5 separate regions of the Homo sapiens genome follow, and regions 2, 3, 4 and 5 are each reported to be linked to region 1. Evidence: microRNA targets listed by miRTarBase, many of them from high-throughput screens and not tested one by one. Region 1 holds a microRNA gene; each other region holds the end of a gene's coding sequence.
What was found. The annotated mature microRNA hsa-miR-548e-5p reads CAAAAGCAAUCGCGGUUUUUGC and lies in region 1 at 1,019-1,040, opposite strand. An mRNA with a match to its seed (bases 2 to 7 or 8) in the 3' UTR can be bound and repressed. Matches are read on the target gene's strand: a 7mer-m8 pairs with bases 2 to 8, a 7mer-A1 pairs with bases 2 to 7 and ends in A, and an 8mer does both.

Region 2: miRTarBase lists HIVEP1 as a target of hsa-miR-548e-5p. Seed matches in the 3' UTR shown: 7mer-m8 at 4,201-4,207.
Region 3: miRTarBase lists TLR3 as a target of hsa-miR-548e-5p. Seed matches in the 3' UTR shown: 7mer-m8 at 2,719-2,725, 7mer-m8 at 2,693-2,699 and 7mer-m8 at 2,632-2,638.
Region 4: miRTarBase lists GPR180 as a target of hsa-miR-548e-5p. Seed matches in the 3' UTR shown: 7mer-m8 at 4,044-4,050, 7mer-m8 at 2,353-2,359 and 7mer-A1 at 1,911-1,917.
Region 5: miRTarBase lists C5orf46 as a target of hsa-miR-548e-5p. The part of its 3' UTR that is shown has no 7-base or 8-base seed match.

Annotation. Positions count from the first base shown.
Region 1 is chr10:110,985,980-110,989,979 of GRCh38, reverse strand. It overlaps MIR548E (microRNA 548e), which reads right to left and starts at 1,054; the gene lies at 967-1,054. The region is part of intron 3 of SHOC2 (SHOC2 leucine rich repeat scaffold protein); the gene reads right to left.
Region 2 is chr6:12,163,370-12,168,686 of GRCh38, reverse strand. It overlaps HIVEP1 (HIVEP zinc finger 1), which reads right to left. Exons shown (of 9, transcript NM_002114.4): 9 at 3,688-5,317. The coding sequence ends at 4,226. Among named protein-coding and RNA genes, the nearest start is that of EDN1, 120 kb to the left of the region's middle. RefSeq lists enhancers at 4,001-4,501, 5,221-5,270.
Region 3 is chr4:186,084,102-186,089,270 of GRCh38, reverse strand. TLR3 (toll like receptor 3) reads right to left here. Exons shown (of 5, transcript NM_003265.3): 4 at 5,099-5,169; 5 at 1,198-4,626. The coding sequence ends at 4,398. Among named protein-coding and RNA genes, the nearest start is that of TLR3, 18 kb to the right of the region's middle.
Region 4 is chr13:94,626,344-94,631,660 of GRCh38, reverse strand. It overlaps GPR180 (G protein-coupled receptor 180), which reads right to left. Exons shown (of 9, transcript NM_180989.6): 9 at 1-4,648. The coding sequence ends at 4,490. Among named protein-coding and RNA genes, the nearest start is that of GPR180, 27 kb to the right of the region's middle.
Region 5 is chr5:147,893,560-147,898,863 of GRCh38, forward strand. C5orf46 (chromosome 5 open reading frame 46) reads right to left here. Exons shown (of 4, transcript NM_206966.3): 3 at 3,425-3,482. The coding sequence ends at 3,434. Among named protein-coding and RNA genes, the nearest start is that of C5orf46, 10 kb to the right of the region's middle.

The DNA of each region.
Region 1 (4,000 bases):
CATACTAACCAAACTTACAGATACATATTTTAATGTAAAAACATACAACACAAACTAAATATGTCACTGTGTGACATATTTACTATACTGAACACTATACTGAATATACACTGAATATATATGGCAAACAGAAAGCATATATACCCTGAATATATACTGAATATACTGAAGAACACTGTACTGAAATAAAACTTAAACCTATATGTTGAATTGGCCCAGAGTATACTAGGAAAATATGATCCTGAAAAATAAACACTGATAAATAAAATATAGTTCTTAAAATTTCAGAAATCTAGAAATAATACTTTGGCTGGCCAAGCAAAATGACTAAGTCACTTATCATGGGGAAAAAAGAAAATGGACTGGCCTCTTATTTTTGTACATTCAATTCCAGAAGAAGGTAGAACTACCTGTTAACAAGTTCTACTGAGATCCTCAAGGAAAGGCAGTTTGATCCAATTATTTTGTATCTATCTAAATTGTTCTTAAATTATAAAAGCTACACACATGCAAGAACTATAGGAGAATACTGCTCCCATGAACCATTTTTGAGCAAATGACTACCAACCAGATTGACTTCAGCCAACCAAGAAATGACTGAGGCAACTATGGCAACAGGACTGCTGATAAACATTAAGACTAAAACAAAAATGGGAATTAGTACAACAAGGTATGTTACCTATGCTGACAATGCAGTTAACAAAAATAAGAAGAAAAAGAGACTCCTCCAGAAACGGCAGAAAGTAGAATAAACTCATTGATTGCCTCATCTGTACCATGATTCATATTTATGGATCACTCCACCCAACAAAAGTAGAATACACATTAAACTGCACATGGAATACTTTTACCATGATGAAAGAATTCAAGTCCTATCAGGAATGTTCTTGACCACAATGGAGGTAAATTAGAAGTCAATAATATATCATGGAAAATTGTCAAGCTTTTGGGAACAAAATAACATTCTTCTATCAGGTTGGTGCAAAAGTAGTCTCAGTTTTTGCCTTTAAAAGTAATAGCAAAAACCGCGATTGCTTTTGTACCAACCTAATAAAGCCATAGATCACAGAAGAAACAAAAGGGTAAATTAGAAAAAACTTTTAAAAGGAAAATACAACATATCAGAATTTGTGGGATGCTGCTGAAGCAGTACTTAAGGGGAAATTTACAGTGCTAACTGTCTTTATGAGAATAATAGAAAGGTCTCAAATTAATGACCTCAAGCTGCCACCATAAGAAACTAGAAAAAGAACAAATAAAACTCAAAGTAAGCTGGTGAAATAAAGTTCAAAATGGAAATCAATGAAATAAAAACCAGAGAAACAATAGGGAAAATCAATAAAACTAAGAGAGGATCAACACAATTGATATACTTCTAACCAGAATGATTAAGAAAAAGAGAAAACATACAAATTCTTGATATCAGGAATTAGAGAGGTGGCATTACTATAGATTCTACAGATATTAAAATAATAAGAATGTTATGAACAACTTAATGCTTTTAAATGTGATAATTGAAATAAAACAAATATATTCCTTGAAAGACCCATATGACCAAGTTTGCTGAAGAAGAAAGTGATAACCTGAATAGCCCTATATTTATTAAAGTAATTGAAATTGCTTTAAAACAAATTCCCATAAAGAAAAGTCCTGTCCTGGATGGCTTCACTGGTGAATTTTATCAAATATTAAAGGAAGAAATAATGCAATTTCATACAAACTATTCCAAAAATTGAACATACGTAGCCAGCATTACCCTGAAACCAAAAACCAGGTAAAGATAGGTTGTATAACATTACATGTGAATTTATTATTTATTCAAAACAAATACATCTAATATTTAAAACTACCACCAGAATGTAACTTTTTAATTTATTTCTTCTTGGTAAGCAATTTTGGTCTTATTATCCGGGTTTTTATCAAGTTCAGGGAAACATTATAAAATTATATTTTATAACTATCACCACTATTTGGCCTTCTGGAACGTCTAGTCCTATCTGCCATGACTTTTTAACTTTTCACTTCTTTTGTATACATTTCTTTTTGATCTAGATTCTAGGGGACTTTTAATTTATCCTAGAGATCATCACTTTGGTCTCTGGCTGTGTTCATTTGGTTATATGGAATTTTCCATTAAATTTGATTTGGCAAACATATCTCTAAGAATTGTATTTTATTCTTTGTTCCCTTTTTGTATCAGCCTCATCATGTTTTAAACATGCAGTTTAAATATCCTATGTTTTTTTTCTCCTAAGGTCACATCTCCTTGTTCATCTTGGCCATTTCAATAGATTTTAAAGAGAAAAAAAAGCATGAAATAATTGTGCTTGGTCCTTATTATCTTGAACCAGAAATCTGATTCTCTTATTTTATACAGGACATTTAGTAGAATATTTATTTTGGATATTAATAGAATAATTCATTATGTGTTGGAGACAATCTTGCCTTTCAGAGGGACATCTAAACCATAAACCAGTTAACTAGAATATGTAATCTCTTTCCACTACAAATAGTAATACGATAGTGTCATGGGCCAAAAATCAGGGAAACATAGATTCTAACGGCTATTTATTACATCCATGTCTCAGCTTGCTTTTCTGTAAATAATTGTCCTGTATAACCTAAGACAATCTACTCAACCCTGCTAAGAAATTCCCTAACAACTGCTTTGTTTCAAGTAATGGTAGGTAATTCAAATAAATTCTCCCAATAAAAAAATAAATAAATAAAAACATCTTCCAAAACCAAAATCAGAGAGTTAACAACGTAATGACTAAGCACCAGAACAGAAACAAGCTGGGAACCCAGATACAAGCAAAACAATGGAGATAATTCTGTCCTAAGAACACAGCCCTAACTGGAAGATGCAGCTAAAAGGCTAAGTTATTTTTCCAGCAAGAGTCAAAATCTAGGGCCTGCCAAGGGTGGGGACTCTAGTCATCAACCTCAACTGGGACCCTCTAGAGCTGCACCCTACCAGTAAGGGTGAACTGGAAATAAAATAGTCATCCAGTTAGCCTGCAGCAAAACTTTTAATCACTTGGGGGACCACACACATCTCAAGCCTTGAACACGAATTGATTGAAGTGATCCCCTCTCTACTAGGTACCCAACAGAGGCAGACAAAAACTCTTCTGGAGAAAGATAACATCATCACAGGCCTCAAATGATTTAGTAATCATGCCTCTAAAATATTCATGACTGGACCAAGCACGGTGGCTAAGGCCTGTAATCCCAGCAATTTGGGAGGCAGAGGCAGGCAGATCACCTGAGGTCAGGAGTTCAAGACCAGCCTGGCCAACATAGTGAAACCTCATCTCTATTAAAAATAGAAAAAAATTAGCCAGGCGTGGTGGTGGACGCCTGTAGTCCCAGCTACTCAGGAGGCTGAAGCAGGAGAATCGCATGAACCCAGGAGGCGGAGGCTGCAGTGAGCAAAGATCACGCCACTGCACTCCAGCCTGAGAGGCAGAGTGAAACTCTGTCTCAAAAAAAATAAAAATTAAAAAATTAAAATACTAAATATTCATGACTGAAATTATGTAAATTAAGTAGAGATGTAATTTTTCTAAATAAACATTATAGTATCCTTATACCACATTAATAACTAAAAAGGCATCAGAATTTTTAAAATTCACTTTACTGGTATAAATTTATGGGCAATCGGAAAAATAAGACTACATAAACACAAAACATATCACAGCTCAATTCAATTTTTTGCAATTTGGCTAAGTCTATAAAACATATTTTGAACTTCAAGTCATCTCCTTGCTTATCCCCTTAGTATTACAGATAAACAAACTTTAAAGTATATTGGCCATGTTTAAAAAACTAAATAGCAATGGTTTTATTTTTCAGTATGGAATACTTTAGCAAAGAAAGGACCACACCCAGTATAATAACATGCAACTCAGAAATAAGCAGAAATAGAAAAAGCCACCCATTTTGCAATTCAAACTATGACAGAATATATATACATGTAACTCAATATTCTCTCTCT
Region 2 (5,317 bases), not on the chromosome of region 1:
GGAGCTTTGGCTCCTGCTGCTGCCCAGCATCATAAGAGATCAAACCCTATATTGCTAGCACAGAAAGATATCAAAATTCAGAGTATGGTTTCTACTGAATGCTTATCATTTTCACATCAGTGTAAAGTTGAAAAAATCATTAAATTGAACCATAGTAAGTTGTGAACAGTCTGTATATAATTTGTATAGAAAAACATTTTGCTATTCTTGCTTTAAACCTTTTCTCCTTTTTTTCCCCACTTGGTAATGAGAGCAGGGAGTTATTGCCACTAAAATATATTATATAAAATATTATATATATACATATATACATGTATATGTATATAATATATACATATACATGTATATATAATTATATAATATATATGTATATAATATATGTATATATGTATATATGTATATAATATATGTATATATGTATATATACACGTATATCTGTATATATAATATATATGTATATAATATATGTATATATGTATATATGTATATATACACGTATATCTATATATAATATAGATATACACGTATATCTGTATATATAATATAGATATACACGTATATATGTATATATAATATACATATATACGTGTATGTGTATATATGTATATATACACATATATATGTATATATACACATATGTATATGTATATATAATATATACATATATACATGTACATGTATATATAATATATACATATATACATGTACATGTATATATAATATATACATATATACATGTACATGTATATATAATATACGCAGATATACATGTACATGTGTATATATTATATACGCACATCTATACATGTACATGTGTATATATTATATACGCACATCTATACATGTACATGTGTACATATTATATACGCACATCTATACATGTACATGTGTATATATTATATACGCACATCTACACATGTACATGTATATATTATACACGCACATATACACATGTATATATGTATATATATTATGCATATATGTATATATGTATATATATTATACACATATATGTATATATGTATATATAACATATATATGTATATGTATATATAACATGTATATATACATGTAATATAACATGTATATATACATGTAATATAACGTATATATAACATGCATGTAATATATACATATATTATATATATACAAATATATATTACAAAATACATATTTTGAATATTAAGTAGGAAATTTAGAATTTTAAGTCATGGGAAGTCACTTTGAGAGAAGATTCTTAAGGTGATATACATGCTGTATTTAGAATTTATAGATGGTTTTGAAACAAAATTAATGAAAATCATCTTTCTGGTATTATTTGAAGTTGACTGCAAAATGTAAGATGAAAAACAGAAAAGTCAAAAAGAACCCTGATGTTATAATTTGAACTGAGCATGAATCAAGATCTATTAACTATCTTGACAGTCTTCCAACAAAAATAATGATTATTTTCCATAATCCTTATTAACTGCTATCATTTAAAATTCAGGCCAGGGATTAATTAGTAAGAAACGTGTTACTTATACTGTTTCTGTGAAAGGAAAATCAGGTCTATATTATGAAAAATATAACTGAGAAACAAAATTTGTACATTCAATACCATCGGTTAATTATCATTTCGAAAGAAATAATTATCATTTTGGCTTAAAGTTTAGGGAATGAAAATAAGTTATTGGAACGCCCTCGATTTATGTTATAATACATTTTCATAAGCCAGATATAATAATCTTTAACTAGAAAAACGACCTGTGGTTCTTCAGCTGTTTTTTCCAGTACTTCTGATGATGGCATTGCAGTGGATTCACACAAGGTATTGAAATTGTTACACATTAAAACTTTCACCTGTTTTGTCAATAAATTATCTTACTATGTCATTGCACCCTAGTTCTCTACAGGCCTGGGTCTCCACACACGACAGTGCAACAGAATAAAAGTCAAATGTAGTCCCATTAGTTCTCCGAATTACATTATTTGGAAGTCGTTTATATTTGGGAGTATCAAGTGGACACTGCTCCTTGGGAAAAGACGACTTCGGAGAAATAGCACAAAATTATTGTTCCCTTGTCTATTTTGTGCATGTAATTTCAAAATATAATGGCTTAGACTTTGGTAATATTTTTTATAGAGCTGCATATTTCAAATACTAGCAAAATACTTGAAAGGCTACAATAAAGCTTGAAAGTTGCCAATAGTAAAGGTATTTGCACGATGCATTGAATTTTGAAAAGCCCAAAATAAGAATCTTGAAAAGTACAAAATAAGAGTAAGGTACATTACAGCATTATGAAAATTTCAAGGGAACATCCACTCACATCGTAACACTTGTCTTTAAGTATAGGAATTTTTTAAATTAAGAAAATTCTATAGAAACTAAAAAACCTCAATGCTAAAAACTCCAAGCATTATTTTTGAATTTAGAGAAGTCATCTGTACTTAATTATGGAGTTAAGAATATGCTTATTATACTGCTTTAAAATTTTAGGCAATAAAAAGTTCATGACACAGTTAAAACATTAATTTTGAGAAACTGGACAGAAAACAGACCTCATTTTCAACAGCTATTATTGATAGGGCAACGCAATCCCTAGAGCAGATATTTCCAGAATTCTTTCCAAAGCTATCTCAGAATATAAAAATGTAGTTTTATTGTTTTTGAGAGAATTTTGTTACTTAATCTATGGAAATATGTAAATGTAAATTGAAGCATTCATTTAAAGCATCACAGATCCACCAGTGCGTGCTGGGACTGCAGCACACCTTGGAGATCCTAATTGAGATAAGGATACGCAAGTTGAAATGCCAGGTCTTTGCAAAGTCACAGACGTGAAGCTGGGTTGGCTAGCAGCAGGTCTCCAAACCCCTTAGTAGATAGGCTGTCCCCTACCTCTCACCTCGCAAACCATGCTGTTGTCTTACTTATTTCATGTCTCTGCAATCTTTGTTAAGCAAGCCTTTAAAAATGTGAATACATTGACTTAATGATGTGCTAAGTATTTAAATTCCAACATTAAAATACTTTTCTCATAAACCTAGCATCTATAATCATTAATAATGCAAATCACTGCACTGGTAATTGGGGGCTCCCCATGCCGCCATATTTTCCTGAATAAGGATGGTTCAACCTTCCAGGACAGGAAATAGTAATGTCTAAAGAGAGTCACTTAAGTAATTTAGAAGTCTGAATTTGGCTCTTCGGTAATCTTGGACACTCTGTAGTTCAGTGCTGGACAGAGCTCTGTGAGTTTAACAGCATCAAGGGAAAGAAGAGCCCATAGCCCACGAATGGATCTGGTGTTGGAGCCTGGAAATGAGGTTATACGGGTCTCATCTGAGCCAAATTCTAAGGACAATGGGGTTTAACTCATGTTTCCCAGAAATTTCCATACCCTCATTTAGGAACGTTGCCCATTTTAGGCTATATGCTTTATGTATATACAGAAAGTATTCTTATATATTTAGTCTTCTAATAATAACTATGAAATGACTTCTCACAAATAAGAAAAATAGGTCAATCAGTTGTATGGATTTCAGTTACAGTTTCACATGGTAGAAAGGCGAGTAAAGTCTCTGTTTATAAAAAAAATGAAGGGTTGAGGGGAATGTGGAAAGAATGGAACCCAGGGCTATTTTCCAAATGCAGATCACTGATCACTGGATGATATAAAGAAGGCACAACTGAAGCAATGGTAAAGTCAGTAAACAATATTTTACTGAAACATTTCATAACACAGAAAATCTGTCTGAAGTGTAAAGTTACTGTCTTACACAAGGAGGACAGACCCATTTTCAAAGACTAATATGAATACAATAAATATGGAGTTTACATACTAATTTATACACAGAAACTCTGCCCCATAGCCATAAAATTTATATTCAACAGTGGAACATATAATTTAATCATTTGATTTATTTGACAGGTTTTCCTTACTAAACACAAATAACTACCTGGTTTTCATATACATATATAATATATTTTTATGTATATAGATATTCAACAATCTGTACAGTTTCTAAACATAAAGCTCCTAAAAGGCACAATTGTCTATACAACATGTACAAAAATGGCTGGAGCTGACACAAAACAACAATTATTGGTCAAAAGTTCATGATTGCACAAAGATTAGTCATGAGTTTATGTCAGAAAAATGTGCTTTAAGGAAAGGAGGGTTTTCAAAGAAACCTTTAAGTGTTATATAAAAAAAAAGCAAATAAAAAATAAAATCCATCAGGTTGCTATCACAAGCCTGTCCTCGTCATCATCGCTGCTCACGTCGCTGAAGTGCACAGTGGGCTGCCTCCGCGGTAGTGCTGTGGGCCTGGGAACCTGTCTGTCTGGAGAGAGAGTCTGCTGGCCTGAGGGCTTTGTAAAAACTTCAGAATGTGCCTTCAGCAGAGGTTGTGACGTGGACGCTGGTTGGCCCTGTATGGAAGTGAGTTCAGGCTTGGGCTTCACGTGATTTGCCGAGGCAGCCTTCTCTGTGTCCATTTTACTCAGGCCATCAAGCCTTGCATGGTCACCTGCAGGGGCAGGTGGATTCAGAACTTTTTTTGCATTTTCCCGCTGGACTGTAGGTAACCCCTGAGGAGACTCGGTCCTGCTGACCTGGTTTGCGCTGGCTACAGAAGTCTGCTTGGGTTGTGTCTCGCATGCTTTGCTTTGGGAAGCTGGCATTTCTGGAGCTCCCTGTGCATCAACGGCTACTTGACTGACTGAGGGGATTAAGGTGGGCAATGCTATGTTCAAGATCTGGAGACCTGGAATGTGTGCCTGAGGGGCGGGGCTGCTTTGTGATGAAGGGTTTGCAGTCAGAACCTGCAGTCCGACAGCATTCAGAGCCAGTCCTGGTGGATGGACTTGTGGGGCCATATTTGTATTGGCTAGGCCTACAATATTGACGGTTTCCATGCTTAACGAGGGGAGTGACTGCAAGCCTGGGGTACTTAGGTTCTGAAGGCCTGGCACGCGGATTTGGCCGATAGGAATACATGGCACAACACTGCTTAATTCAGCCACTCCAGCAGGGTTTGTAGTGCCAGACACTTCTGTGACCGTATTCCTATGAGTACCCAAAGTTCTGTGAACGACACTGACAGCAGGGATCGTGAGCTGCACTGGTCCAGCCTGAAGGGGCACAAACGTGGAGTATGTGAGGCCAGCAGGTACCACATGGATCCCCCCAACTGGAACCATATTATAAGGTGTCCTCGATTGCTGCTGGGAATGCAAAGGAAGGTGGCTAAACAAATGAGTGTGGGGAGAAGGCAAGCCTGGAGTCGGCTGTAGAGTTATTTGCTGCTTCTGTTCTTGAGGGTCAGG
Region 3 (5,169 bases), not on the chromosome of region 1:
GTGAGGCTGGTCTCTAACTCCCAACCCCAGGTGATCTGCCTGCCTCCACCTCCCAAAGTGCTGGGATTACAGGTTTGAGCCACTGCACCTGCCCTTGAATTTCTTTTGGCAAAACATTTTACTTAAGGTCACACTTCCTCCCTGGGGCTGCCTGTGTCTGTGACTGGTTGATGTGAGGGCATGGAGAGGGGTCCAGCCCCTTTGCCTAGATTTCTCCCAATTCTCTAGGGTCATTCCAGCTCCAGAGCTCCCCATGGGGCTGGCTAAGAACTCAGCTGCAATTGTGAATTGCATCAGAGTTAATTATTCTCTCTCTTCCCGATCCAGCTTATTTCACTCACTTATAAATCAGAGCACCCCTGAAACTTCCTTCATGCAAACCTCCATCCCAAAACCTGTTTCCTGGGGAACTGACCTAAGAGAAAAGGAAGCTAAATAAGCCAACCCTGTCTACCCAGAAGTCCTCAAACAAAAGTGGAAGAGTTCCACCATTGAAAAGTCTGATGACTCTTGCCCAATGCACACAAAGAATAAAGAATGGTTTGTGAAAATAGCCACATGGCACAACTGTTTTCTCCCATAAACAGGACAGTGGAGCAAGGCTAGAGAGTTGCAAGAGCCAAGAGTGGCTAATATGTCACCTAGTGTAATTAGTAACTAATGAGTGATTGTCCTTTGTTATTTTAACACAGATGTATATGTTTATAGGGGAAAAAAGTGCTTAAAGCCCCTTTTGTTATGTGAGAGCCAGCCTGGCTTTGGACTGTGAAGTTATAGTCTATGTTCCTCTGTTTAACTGGCTGACACCTAAATCTAAGGCATAGATCCCAGGAGGGAATTTCATCATGATGTCTGGGTTTGGCAGTTTAAACCCATAAAGTCACAATTTCAAAACATTGCATCTAAACATCTCTGCCATGCTCTCTGCAGCCTGGTTCCATCCCCTTCGGCACCCCACTATCTCCCGACACCAAGTTCATGTCTCCCTCATGAACTTCTCTCTTGCTGTTCATTCTGCCATCTTCTTCTCCACTCATTGAAATCTCACCCACCTTGGAAGGGGCTGGGTCTCCTCTGTGGAGTCCTCCCTGCCCAGGTCCATCTTTGGAAATCCCTTTCCACCCAGCTTGTATTGCCCACACCTCTAAATCCCATCCTACTGTTCACCATAGTAGTTAACACAGGGCTAGGCACCTGTAGCTGCTCAAAAAATACAATTTTTAATGGCTTTGTGAATATATAATTTACATATCATAAAATTCACCTGTTTTAAGTGTCCAACTCAATGACTTTCAGTAAATTTACATAGTTGTACAATTATTACCATAACCCAATTATAGAGCACTTTCATCACCCAAAAAAGGTCTCTTCCACCTATTTGCAGCCACTCCCCATTCCTGTTCCTAGGCCCAGACAACCACTCATCTGCTTTGTGTCTCAATAGATTGCAAGAAATTCCTTCTAAGTTCTTGATTTGAAGCCCCTTTACATTTTTCAATGGTCACTATAACTTACCGTTGAGTCTCCTTTACAACCTAGATGTATATTTGAACAATTAGACATTGTAAACTAAGTGGCATCGAAAACTCCTCCCCTCCTCACTAACAAATTGATAGCATCTACCTCTGATTACAGTCTAAAAGTTATCATTTTTAGGTACAACCTAAATACCAAGATTTATTTTAAACTCAGTGTCGATTCAGTTGGGTTTTGTTTTGCAATGTGAAAAACAGGAAGAAGTTGGAGTGGACAGATTACATGATGGCACCCTGAGAGGATTCAAACAAGTCAAGTCACTTGGGCAAATCAAACAAGAGCTCAGACAAACATCCTTTTCCTCGATCCCCTTCTCTCAAACCCCAGGGACAAGGGTTCCTCCGGAGAACAATTACACAGGACAGCCTGCAGAAGTTCTGGATGTTACTTCCTACCTAGGTCAGATAGGAGTCAGAGTTTACACCTTTTACTATTTTTATTGGCATTCATTTAGAGGTCATTACCTGTGCATCTTAACCTCTTAAATATTAAGCAACTTAATGATGTATTGAATATGTCATTGATATATCTGAGGCAGGAGAATGGGGTCTGCAGGCAGGGAAACTAAAGGCTTCCTAGAACTCAATCAAATGGAAAAATCCCAACATTCTACCACCAAGTAAATCACTGTAACTCTACCTCAGCTGTGACAGCTATTCATTTGCGTAGGGTGCACAACAAGTAAATAACTTTGTAATTTCACTTTAGCCTCTTCATTTACATAGGGCATAAACCAAGTAACCAATGGAAACCTCTAGAGAGTATTTAAACCCCAGAAAATCCTGTAACCCGGCTTTTGAGCTGCTTGCTCGGGCCGCTCCCACCCTGCGGGGTGTGCTTTCGTTTTCAATAAACCTCTGCTTTTGTCGCCTCATTCTTTGTGCATTTTGTCCAATTCCTTGTTCAAAGCACCAAGAACCTGGACACTCTCCACCAGTAACATATCAATATATTAAATATAGATATTATATATTAAATAGCATTGATATATGACATATTAAGCAACTTGATATATTGACTAATTCACAATGATTTATTTAAAATATCTTATGAATATTTGAGAATATTTGTGTGATAACACACAAAGCATATAAGAAAAGCAGAAGTTGTGATTTTTATTTTATAATGCCAAAATAAAATGATTATTGCACAGTTAAAAAGCAAATCTTAACTAAAATGCTGAAAAGCAGTGTCTCAGCTGTCAGGGTGGCAAATAACATGAAAGTGACAATTAGTCCTCCACACATTCACAGTGTTGGCCGACTATAGACTCTTCAGAACCAGAGGTACAGTGGATATTTCTCATTCCAGGGTCATGGAACTCAGCCTTGGGAATACTGAACTATTTAAATCAAAGTTCCAAAATGTGACATCTCAAATGCTCCCTGAATTCAGCAGACAAATGAACATTTCAGGTATAGAAATTAACTCAGCTTTATAATTTCAGGTTTCTCTTTAAATACTAGAACTATAAATATTTCAAAAAGCTATTCAGGTCTATTTCCAATAATCAGATTCTCTTTTATTGTAAAACTAAAAATTTTTTGTTGTATTGTAAAACAAAATAAAAAGGCGGGGCGCGGTGGCTCACACCTGTAATCCTAGCACTTTGGGAGGCCAAGGCGAGAGGATCACTTGAGGTCAGGAGTTCAAGACCAGCCTGGCCAACATGGTGAAACCCCATCTCTACTAAAAATACAAAAATTAGCCAGGCATGGTGGCATGTGCCTGTAATCCCAGCTACTCGGGTGGCTGAGGCAGGAGAATAGCTTGAACTCAGAGGTGGAGGTTGCGGTGGGCCGAGGTTGGACCACTGAACTCCAGCCTGGGCGACAGAGCCAGACTCTGTCTCAAAAACAAACAAATAAAAAACAAACAAACAAAAAAACAAAAATAAAAATAGTCTTTCTAGATAAGGACTACCTTATGCGTAGCACATTATTTTATGGTAAAATAATACATTCCTTTGAATATATTATACAGCGATCATCATCACTAATTACATAGGAATATCTAAGATGCATTTATTATCATAATTTTCAAGATCAGGAGTCAAAGAATCCCAGTGGGACCAAGTGATTTTGCCAACGCCATCTCCTGAGTCTGTGACCATGGGAGGAAAGTTCTGTTTCCACAAAGCCAAATAGTGATTAGCCTTCAGAAAGCAAGCCTGCCTACAATACTTTTAGTAAGAGAATTGTTTCCACCCTCCCACAGCAGAAACTCATAATCTCAGGAAAATACAAGTCAATATTCATTCAAATAATCATCTCATTAACTAATAAAAATGAATTGCAAATGTTTTCTGCCCTTGGGTATGTATATTAAAAAATATTTAACATTTAACAAAGTCAACACTGAGACAAGTACTTACTAAAATACAAAGTTTTTCCATTGAAAAAATACTGTAATTAAACTTGTTAAAAATATGGGTATATATTTTACTCTTTTACAAAGGAAATAGCATTATACCCATTGAAACAATTATCTTTCATTCTAAGTGCATCCAAAATACAAAAAGATCATCACAAACCCTCATATACCTCTAACTTTTCTTAAAATGAGGAATGTTTTCAAACTCCTTAAGCTGTCATAGGCTCAGTGGCTGATTGTATATTAATCAGTAGACAATGTTCTTACGTGCTTATATGTTTTATTTTGGGTAAAATTAAGTCAATTGTCAAAAATAGGCCTGAAATAAGGAGACACATTTTCCTAGAAGAGATGTAATTGTGATAGAATATAATCATTTACAAATATGAATAAACAAATTATAACACCTTTATGGAAAACTTAAATTTGCCATAGAACTTTTTAAATTGAGAAAGTTTCTCCTTTGCTAATTGAATATTTAAATAAATTTAATGTACAGAGTTTTTGGATCCAAGTGCTACTTGCAATTTATGACGAAAGGCACCTATCCGTTCTTTCTGAACTGGCCAGTTCAAGATGCAGTGAGATTTAAACATTCCTCTTCGCAAACAGAGTGCATGGTTCAGTTTATAATCTGGAATCTCCTCAAGGAAAACCAATATAATGGAATCCAGATTTTGTTCAATAGCTTGTTGAACTGCATGATGTACCTTGAATCTAAGTAAAAAAATGTATTGAAGAATTAATATACGGTTTTTAACAGCCAGAAGCAATACTATTTAAAAATACTCTGTAGAGTTTAAACTGTTACTGAAACTCAGGTTTTTTTTTTCTTAATTTTATTTTAAAAATTCTTTGAGTTGTGAGTAATATTGGTAATATTTAAAAGTTTAATTGAAGCTCACCTGAGGCCAGGAGTTCAAGATAAGCCTGGCCAACACGGTGAAACCCCATCTCTAATAAAAATACAAAAATTAGCCAGGCTTGGTGGCGCGTGCCTGTAATCCCAACTACTTGAGAGGCTGAGGCAGGAGAATTACTTGAACCCAGGAGGTGGAGGCTGCAGTAAGCTGAGATCACACCACTGCACTCCAGCCTGGGCAACAGAGCAGGACTCCATCTCAAAAAAAAAAAAAGAAATTTAATTGAAAAGCAAGTACACACTTAAAATTTCACAATGTTTACCTACCTTTTGCATAATGGGTCTTTTAATAGATGGTGTGTTATAACAAAAATAATTTTTCTGCTTCTTTTGATGCT
Region 4 (5,317 bases), not on the chromosome of region 1:
TTGCCTTCATTCACTCAAAAATATTTTTGAGCATCTAGTATGCACCAGGGAGTGTCCTAGTATTAGGCATACAGCAATGAACAATAGAGACAAACTCACTTAAAATTTATATTCTAATTTGAGAGATGACAAAGATAAACCAGCTAAGTACAACAAACAAAAAAAGGGATAATATGATAGAACTAGGATGGGGGAATAGCATTAGGTAGGATGGTATGGTTAATCAGGGTCTGATCAGAAAAGAACCACTAGGATCTAATACACATACACATATCTTAATATTCAAAATAAGGGGCTTATTATAGGGATTATAGGAGGCGGTTTCTTTTGTGTCTGGCAGTTGGAAAGGGAAGACATGGGAAATGGGGGAAGCAAGGAACTTGCTAGGATGAGTAGAACCTGTGGGAACTGAGTGGAACTTGTGAGGATGGACTGGAAGCCATACAGGTCTCTCCCTGCCTCTAATCCTCCAGTGTGAATGATGGAGTTGTCCAGCAGAAGCTGGCACCCTTTGTCAGAGTAAAACGCACACCTGGCCCAGGAGCCAGAGAAGCTGAAGGAGCCATTCCGGCAGGAACTGGTGTTCCTGTGGGCCTGGCTGTTGTCCCACAGGCCAAGAGAAGCCAACAGATAAGCAATAATGTGGATAAGCTGCAACAGTGCCTTGTGCCTTGTGCCTTGTCTGGCCCTTCCTCTTACAAAAAGAATGCAGATCTGGCTGCTACTTTACTTCTGCCTTCTATATCTTGTATCAAACATTTCTTATGGCCTACATTGTCCTGAAATTATGCATGGAAGAGAATTCTGCAGAACCTATCTCCAGGTTGACTAAACTGCACCATATAAATCCACCACAGATGGTGAGTTCTCTAAAAGACATCTCAGCTGAGAACCTGAAGGATGAGGATTCAGCCTTCCAACCATGCTAAGATTTGGAAGAGAATGTCCCAGGCAGAGAAGATGGCTAGTGCCAAGTATCTGAGGGTGTGATATAAGCTAGATCTTTTTTTGATGAAGGACAATGAGGCTGGGATATGTGTGTGAGAGAGTGGTACAAATTAAGAGATAACCAGATCATATGGGCCTTGCAGAACATAGTAATGAGTGAGGACTTCTTTTCCTAAGTGCAATGAGAGGCACATGGAGGGTTTTTGTCAGGGAAGTAGTAGTTTGATCTGATTTATATGATTTTTAAACTTTTTGAAATAATTTCAAACTTACAAAAAAATTACAAGATTAGCACAAAGAATTTCTGTATGCTCATCATCCAGATGATTTCCATTTTTAAGAGATTGTTTTGGCTACACTGTGGAGAATGGCCCTAGTGGGCAGGATCACTTCTTTCCTCACCTCCAGGCTTCATGGCACTCCTACAGCACAACACATATGATGCCCCTGGAGCTGTGCAGAAGGCTGCCCAAGTGTGGACATGGTAATATTACTTAGAGAGCTATTGCAAGAAATCAAGCTACGGTGCTTCTACCACACTACTTTCAGATCACAGAGGAAAACCAATCTCATTATTTTAGTCTCAATTCACAAATACATGTTGGAATAAAAAACAGTATTACCTCTTCGTATCTGGCTACTTCTAACAATCATATCAATTCTCAAAACAAACAAAAAACAACCTCAATGATTTGATACCACAGAAGCTATTTAAGAAAATGTTTCACAGATAATTCCAAATTTCCAAATTCCAAAGAACGTGCAGTCTCCTAGAAGAAACATGCTGAAGGAGCCCATGTTCATGTTGATAGATAGGTTCTAGTCTCATTATTTTAGAGATGATCTCAGATTTGTGTATCTCCTATGTTCATCAGATGTGACTTTACTGGAGATAATAAATAATTACCCTAAAGCAAGCTCTTCTGCCTAGATTAACTCTCCTGCTAGTAATACTGTCTGGTTAAAAGCCAGGTTCAAATACTGAAGTGTGCTGAGGTCTTACAGATATTCAAGCGCATGTTCTGATTTTAGCACAATTCCAGTTTTAATGTTCAAATCAACAGCAAAAATTATGATGGATAGCAATTCATTCTCACTAAAACACAGCTAATACATGTTCCTTAAATCATGAAGGTAAAGTGGAAAAACTAAATAGTTTGATGACCTTAGAGAAATCATTTATTCTCTCTTATACTCAGTTAAATGGGAGCCTGGTTATCACAATAGAGATGAGTAATAATGAAGGTAAAATGCCTGGTAAAATGCATCACAGTAGGCACCCATCTTATTATACACATGTCAATAAAAATAAGCATCTATTTTTTAAGGGAAGAAAAGAAATGCTTCTTAATAAAGCTCTGGATGAACCATTTATCTTCTTTCAAAAAATGTAAAAACACATAAAAAAGCATTATCTGACAAAGAAAAGTAGAAAAGATTTTTATCTTTAATTAGAGTTTGTAGTATACACTTAACTTTCTGTAATCTGCAGTGATGAATCTCTATGTAAACATTCAGAAAAAGAGCGAATACTGTGTCATGACTTATGAACTATAAATTTTGTCCCTGATTACTAGTCAAGAACAGTTTTATACATTTATTAACAACTACTTTCCTCCACTTAACAACAGCTCTTAAATAACAAAATAAATTATCAGCATTTCCAACCATAAATTTAAGAATTAAAGTTTAAAAAACTGGTTAGTTTCATAAATGCAAGCAGAGTAATAAATTTCATATATGTTAATTGCAGTTACTTATGTTCTTTGAGTGAAGTAACACAAAGATTTTTCCCTTCCCCTTTTGGCAAGTTCACAAAATTCATGAAAAGTCTTCATCTTTTTCTTTTTTGCTTAATTTCTTTTTTGCATCTCAGCTGAACACAACAGACAATAGCTGGGGTTATTAGCGAGACATGATAAAAGAAAAGGTTATGACCACTCAGACGATCATGTATACCTAAAACATAACTCAGACTTTCTAGTCTTAACCTGTAGCTCTAATGTACTAAGTGATTTACAAAGAACTAATAGAGAGATGATTTAATGAGCAGGTTGAACTTGGTAACTTTGTCATTTTGGGTCACAAACACATATTCTGCCCTGAAAATGAGGCAGAATACTAGTCATTTCCAATGAGACTAGGTACAAAAGAAAAACAAAAACAAAGCCATAGATATTTTTAAGTTGCACTACATTATTTTAACTATTTAATTAAAAAATTTAACTACCAGATCAGTGCACTGTTGCTTGCTTAAACACACAGTAAATAGATAAAAAATATTTTTAAAATAAGCCAGAAGTAAAAAGGAAAAGGCCTGAACAGCTTGACAAACAGCAACAGAATAATTTCCAATCAGTGACTATTAATGGGAATACTCATTTTATACAGCGAGTATTGACAACCATTTAGCAATTCTTTAATCAGGCACTTGATATTTTTTAGCTAGCATACTCAATACTGGGGCATCACACACACACACAAAAGTATGGCTTTATTACAAAGGATTCAAGATGGCAACTACTTAGAATCCAGTGCCAACACGGATTATAACAAATCCAGTGAGTGTTTTGTTTTTCAATTATTCATAGAAAATTTAATCCTGATTAAGTATCCTTGGGCAGGAATTCATGGGTAGTTGATGACTGAAACCAACATTTATGTGAAATGCTTCTGTTAATTTAATCTGTGTATACGGCTTAATTATGATTGGGGATTCAACGTAAGAGAAATGAATTCTATTGGGATCAAAATTTCAGTACCATATCACATAGTACCTTTTCCCTTCTTTCTGTTTAAACACATAAACCTGCTTGTCCCTTCACCTAAGTGCTCAGATTTTAAAATCCTTTGTCCTTACAACCCGTGTAATGTATTTAAGTTTTATTTTTTCATAAACTGTTTGTCAAAAACCTTTGCTAATCAAGCTAAAACCTGAACTAGAGCCAAAAATGGCAGAAAAAATTGGAGAATAACTCCACCCACAAATAAACAAAAGCTTATTCATTTAACTGTGAACCTATTTTATATTCATTTCCTGAAGTAATTTCAATTCCTTTAAACTCAAATATGAAATACATTTTCCTTAAAGCATAAAAAGCAGCAGTTTTAAAAATCAATGTATTACACTGATTTCATAACTGGACTAGTTTAGATATTTATAAGCAAGTAATCATTTAACTGATTACTTTTTATAAGACTATTAAACCTGAGTTAGCTATTAAGATGAGGCATTATAAGTGGTGAATATTTTACCAAAATATCATAGTTATTTTTCACATTTATTTCCACATAGAAATCGCTTCAATAATTTTATAACAACACTTTCTTCAAAGTTTGTTGTTTAAGTATATTTCAAAACATTTCATTTATTACCTTTTTTTTCAGTCTTGGTACTGCTTAAATGCAGTTATATAAATAACATGCTCTGCTTTCGCTGTTCAAGTTTTCATACTAAATGTATGAAAAAAAAGTCACTGTATTTGGATCCTTATTGCACTCTTTTAACCAATTCACTTTTCCTCTCAACAAAAATCAAGTATCAGAAATGAGGGCGACTTTTGTGTCCAGATGATATGGTCAGTGGTAGTGTTACTGAAGAAAGTGAAGAAACTTCCCAGTATAGACTGTGAGACAGAAAGAGTCTGTAGAGAATAACCATGGAAACAGACTGGCAAAGGATAACACCTATTGTAATAACCTGAAAAGAAAAGGAAAGGAATGCTTTTACTACATGCAGAAATAGAGAAATAATATTCAATTTATTATGAATCTATATATGCTTTTTATATAAATACAATACTCTATCTTTCATCTTTACCATAGGTACATTTTATCAAAAAAATTTTCTGACTAATGCTCAGAACTCTAATTGTTTAAGGATAAAAATCCCTTTAACAGTTATTTTGTAGATGACAAAGTAAGGCACAAAAGAATAACTTGCTAAACCATTCTCTCCTAAGGGTATGCACTACAGACAAGTTTCAGTAAATAAGAAAAATCAGGTTCCTAGCTAATTTAGGAACAGGAATAAAGCACGCTCCTACCTGAACTTTAAAGAGTACTCTAAAAGCCCTTTCAAAAATTCTCAAGTTGCTTCTCTATTTTTGTAGACTACTGTCCTATCTATTCACCCTTTGTAAACACCTCAGGCTCAATAAACATTTGTGCATTCAGGCACATACTGCATTGCTTGTAAAGGGCTCCTGGCAGACCTCTATTTTGAAATGATGGAGCCATTCACCTAAGAAGGTAGGTATCAACACAATCAAAATGCATCATACTTGAGCATGGCACTCTGGTTTGTAGTCTGTTCAATAACTAGACTGATTTTTACAAATCTTGATTTTTGCTATTATGTAAGAAAAAT
Region 5 (5,304 bases), not on the chromosome of region 1:
GAGCCACAGTTTCGCTCTTGTTGCCCTGGCTGGAGTGCAGTGGCTTGATCTTGGTTTACCACAACCTCTGCCTCCCTGGTTCAAGCGATTCTCCTGCCTCAGCCTCATGAGTAGCTGGGATTACTGGCATGTGCCACCATGCCCGGCTAATTTTGTATTTTTAGTAGAGACAGTGTTTCTCCATGTTGGTCAGGCTGGTTTCCACCTCCCGACCTCAGGTGATCTGCCCGCTCGGCCTCCCAAAGCGCTGGGATTTGGTAGGCACCTGTAATGGCATGAGGCACTATGCCCAGCCATCACATAAATCTTATAAGCAGAAAAGAGGAATCTGACTTTAGGGAAGGCATATTTTTTTTTTTTTTGCCTGATTTCTAAAAGAAAAATTTTCCATAAGACTTCATGAAAACGTAATCAAGTGACATTGTGGCCACGGGCAATTTTGCTTATCAGGTGCACTGGAATTTCCTGTCTGACTTACTTATTCCTAGATCCCTCCCTAGGAAGTTCTGACTGAGCAAGTCTAAGCATAAAAGTCTAGTGTGTCCTATAGTACATTTTGCCTTAATCCAAAACACTTGTATAAAAATTAAGAATTCATAAAGTGACTTTCTATCCATTACCTCTTTTGATAATTTTAGTAATCTAGTGAGGTTTGTCCAAATTTGTTTTTAAGCAGGAAAGAAAATTTATACTTAAAATATCAAATGACTTAAGACACAAAAAAAGATGACTTGAATTCATATGGTTTTAAACAATGCAGGACAAATGGAGTTAAAATTTTAATTTTATTGAAAATATTAAAGCCAGTAAAAATCATGCCAATGTTGTTCAGTAGAGGCTGAGAGGTTCTCAGATGAACCAGGTATTCGGTTATTGGATATTTTTCCAAATACTGTACCTCTCTCTACTCATCATATCAGGTTGTGTGTAGAATCTCTTCTCTCAGAGTTCACCTTATTTGTAGAGCATTCATAATGCTTATCCCCTCCTCCAGATATTCCTTCTTATCTTTTCCAAGGCATTCCCAAGGCCCCTTTATGCATAACTTTATCATTTCCTTCCACAGTTATGAGATACACAGAGCTATGTGATTGCTGAGTCCATAAACTTCTCAACAGCCAGCTAGTTATTCATTTTGGTAGCATTGGCTGATTGATATAGTAGGTATGGATTAAAGAAGCATTAAAGAAATGTGTAAAAAAAAAAAAAAGGGAGGGATCGGCCGGGAATGGTGGCTCACACCTGTAATTCCAGCATTTTGGGAGGCCGAAGGGGGGTGAATCACTGTCAGGAGTTCAAGACCATCATGGCCAACATGGTGAAACCTCATTTCTACTAAAGGAAAATACAAAAATTAGCCGGGTGTGGTGATGCACACCTGTAGTCCCAGCTACTCGGGAGGCTGAGTCAGGAGAATCACTTGAACCCAGGAGGCAGAGGTTGCAGTGAGCCGAGATGGCACCACTGCACTCCAACCTGGGTGACAGAGTGAGACTCTGTCTCAAAAAAAAAAAAATCAATGTTAATAAGAGAAACATAAGATCTATCTATCCAACTACCTATCTTAATTTAGGAAATTCTGGCTGCATGCCATGTCTCATGCCTATAATCGGAACAGTTTAGGAGGCTGAGGTGGGCATCCAAGTGATCACTTAGATCACTTGAGGCCAGGAGTTCAACACCAGCCTGGGCAGCATGGTGAAACCCTGTCTCTACTAAGAATACAAAAATTAGTCTCTCCCTTAGTTGCTTCCTTCTCCCTAGTTTAATGTTTTTTATATTACAACCCTAGATTGAGCCATTCCTCCCTGCTCATCAGGGCATCTTAGGTTGGTTCATGCATCAATTCCAAGTTTTTCATGTGCAGTTAAAAAATTTATGGCATTAAGATTCCCTATGTTTTAAAAATTCATAAGGAGAAAAGTGGGGCTCAGGCAGGTAAAGTGGCCTGACCACGGTTACATAACCATTAAGTGGCTGATTTAGAAGTTGAATTTACATCTTGTCTATGTCTTCTGTTCTTTCTGCTCCTCCATGTGGCCTTGCCTATTAGACTACATCATAGACCAGACCTGTAGGATGTACTCCAAGGATTTGGGGTGTGGGTACCAAAAATTATAGGTGTGTACCAGAAGCCGGAATGAAGGCAAAGTATTAGGACACCTGCAAGAAGAGGCAGGCTGTTCTCTGAGAAGATGGGAATGAAGACATACAAACATAAGTGACTGAGTTTAAAAGCTTAATTGGCCTTAGGGTAAGAGTCAGGAGTGTCGGGGTTGGGCATGTTTTGATTTCAATGCCCAAGCCTGATTCTCATCCTTAGAAGCACATGGGAAAGGGTGGGCTAAGTTCCGGGGGAATATGATAGTAGCTTTCTGAACTTACATTAATCACACCCAGGTTATGAAATGGAGCCAATGGGGAAAAGGAGCATTTCCAGACCAGATCACAAACAGAAGTTGGGAAAGGCCATGCTTCCTGAATATGCAGATAAAGTAACTCAACTAAGCAAAGGGGTGGTGTTGTATTTCTATGAACATCTTGAGGTATGACTTAGATTACTTAGCTTAATCATTATTCTCCACTGCCTTCTCCTATACTATTCTGCTCTGTTTCCAGTAGCACTATGGCTTAGAGATACAGCACAGGCCTTGGAATCAGGCTGCTTAAATTCAAATTGTGTCTTCATCCTTTATCAATATAGCCACATTAGCAAACCTCCCTGAACCTTCATTTCCTTATTTATAAAATTTAAGAATAATAATATCTATTTTGCATAGTGATTATGAATTAAATACTACAAGCCCTTAGTCATTAATCACTTAGCTTAATGCCTAAAACAGAGTAAGAACACAGTTCATACCAGCTACTAATATTACTACTTTTCCAGATCTAACACTTTTGTTTTCGTATTTCAATATGCATTTTCAGGAGAGACCCGAGTAGGGAAAAAGCAAGTATTTCTGAGCACTCAAACTATATTGTTTGCCCATATATCTAACTGCGTGAGATAGAAAGTTTGTTATCCTTTCTCTCTGAATTAGGTTCAGCAAATTTCACTCTTCTTATGAGTAACTAACTGCATGATTACGTGGGTCCTTAGATTGCTAGTGCGTGCTAGCCCCTCATTTCACAGGCTGAACTTGTACAAAGCAAGTTCCTAGCAGATTTGTGACAGGAATCAGGTCTCCAAACTTGCCATCCTTATTCACTTCATCTCACAGCTCTACCTCCTCTCTTAAGAAAATTTTATTATTAGAAACTTGTACATGAAAAAAATATATTCATTTATTTTTTTAAAATGTACTTTTTCTGCTTGTAGGTAGACATGGGTAACCAAAATTATTAAATAAAACTGGACAGACTCTTTTTCCTTTGTCCAATACACTGTTATTTCAGTTGTAAATTTTAAGTGAAAAATCACCTGAGGATGTCACTTTGATGAATGTTTTCCTTCATTATCATCAAATTCCATAAATCCTCTTGAGAAAAAAAGAGAAAATAAGAATTACAATTGAGACTGAACAGGAGTGTTAGAATGATCACTAAGGCGCTGTATAATGTTTGAGCCACACTGTTCTTCTCTAGATTTTTCTATGTCAGAAAGAAATAAGACCTAAAATTTCTACATAGTTCATAGTGGGCAAGTAATTTATGCATAATTATCTTTTTTGCATCTGCCAACAAACCCATTAGTTAGGTATCTATTCACACATAAACTCCATAAAGTCATATATTTTGGTATATTTTTCCAGTAATATATCCCCAGCACTTAGAACAGTGCATGGCAAATAGTAGAAATTAATAAATATTTGTTGAATGCATCTTTATTATCTCTTTTTATGTGTGAGAAAACCTTTGAAGCTTAAAGATTAAACAACCTGTCCAAAGCACATGGCTGGTAAGTTACAAAGAAAATTTAAAAATTTGGCTCTCCAGAGTCATTACTAAATGCTAGAAACATTATGCCCTATGGCTTAAGGACTGGGTACCAGGGTATCTGCTGAGATCGTAAAAGATAACTAAAATATGGTTTGTGAATTGCAGTCTAGTGGAGAAAACAGACAACTCAGATACAAGTAATTTAATACAATGTGGGGATAAAAGTTGTTATGAAGATTTCTGCAAAGGATTATGAAATCCCTGAATATGAAAAACTGAAATTTCTGATGTTAAGTGTCTATGACTTTTTTACAGAGTTTGTTTTTGAATTGGGCTTTAGAAAATGATTAGACTTGCCAAGTGAACAGAGTGGGGTTTTGGCTTTGGGGCTAGGCATTTTCAGCAGAGGGAAAAATCACACGCACAGATATTGGGGGTTTATACAAACATGACCTGCTTTAAAATGAAACTCATTAGTCATTGGGGCTTCAGGTTGCAGAGGTGAGAAATGTGACTGAAAGATACATTGGCATCAGAGAAGGACATTTGACATCAGCCTAATGCATTTGCTTGAATTTTGGAGGCAATGGAAATTCATGAAAAACTTTCAAGCATGGCAGTGATATGACCAAATTTAAATTTTTTTGATATAAAGTTCTGGTAGTAGGTAGAAGATGAATTGATGAGACAGAAGGTGGAACTTATTAGAAATCCAATAAAAAGAGAGACAGAGAAAAGTGAAACTTATTAGAAATCCAATAAAAGGAACTTGGGAAAGAGATGATAAAGGACTCAACTTGACCAACTAGTCAGTGGAGCTGAGGAAGAGAAATGTATATAGGGTGCATATACATATACCCGAGGAAGGTATATAGGGTAGAATATTCAGCAATTCGATGAAGGTGATGATGAGCAGGAAGGATTTGAGAAGATCCTTAGATTTCTGGATTCTGGGTGGATGATGATGTGACTTAATGAGATATGGAGGAAGGTTTTGAGTGAGATGATGGGCTTGGGTTTAGACCAGTGGAATTTGAAATAGTGGTAGAAAAACGATGGAATTTTGTAGCAAGCAATCAGTTATTCCATCTGGAGCTCAGGAAAAAATTGCAACAGAAATGTGAATTTGAAACTCATTAGATTATAGGCAGTGTTCCCAATGTGTAAACTGCAATGTGAAGAACCAAGCACGTTTGGAATTCTGAGGAACAATGACATTTGGAGGGCAGGTGCATGAAGAAAAGTCAAATAAAAAGAATGAGAAAGAATGGCTAGTGGTAGAGAGAGAACCAGGAAAATACATCATGGAACCCAGAGGGGAAAATATTCCCTAGAATTAAGGGCTCTCAAAGGGTGAGAGGAGTTAAGAATATGTATATTTTTCAGAAAAATGATGAGCAAAATGCAGTCTAGGTAGCTCCA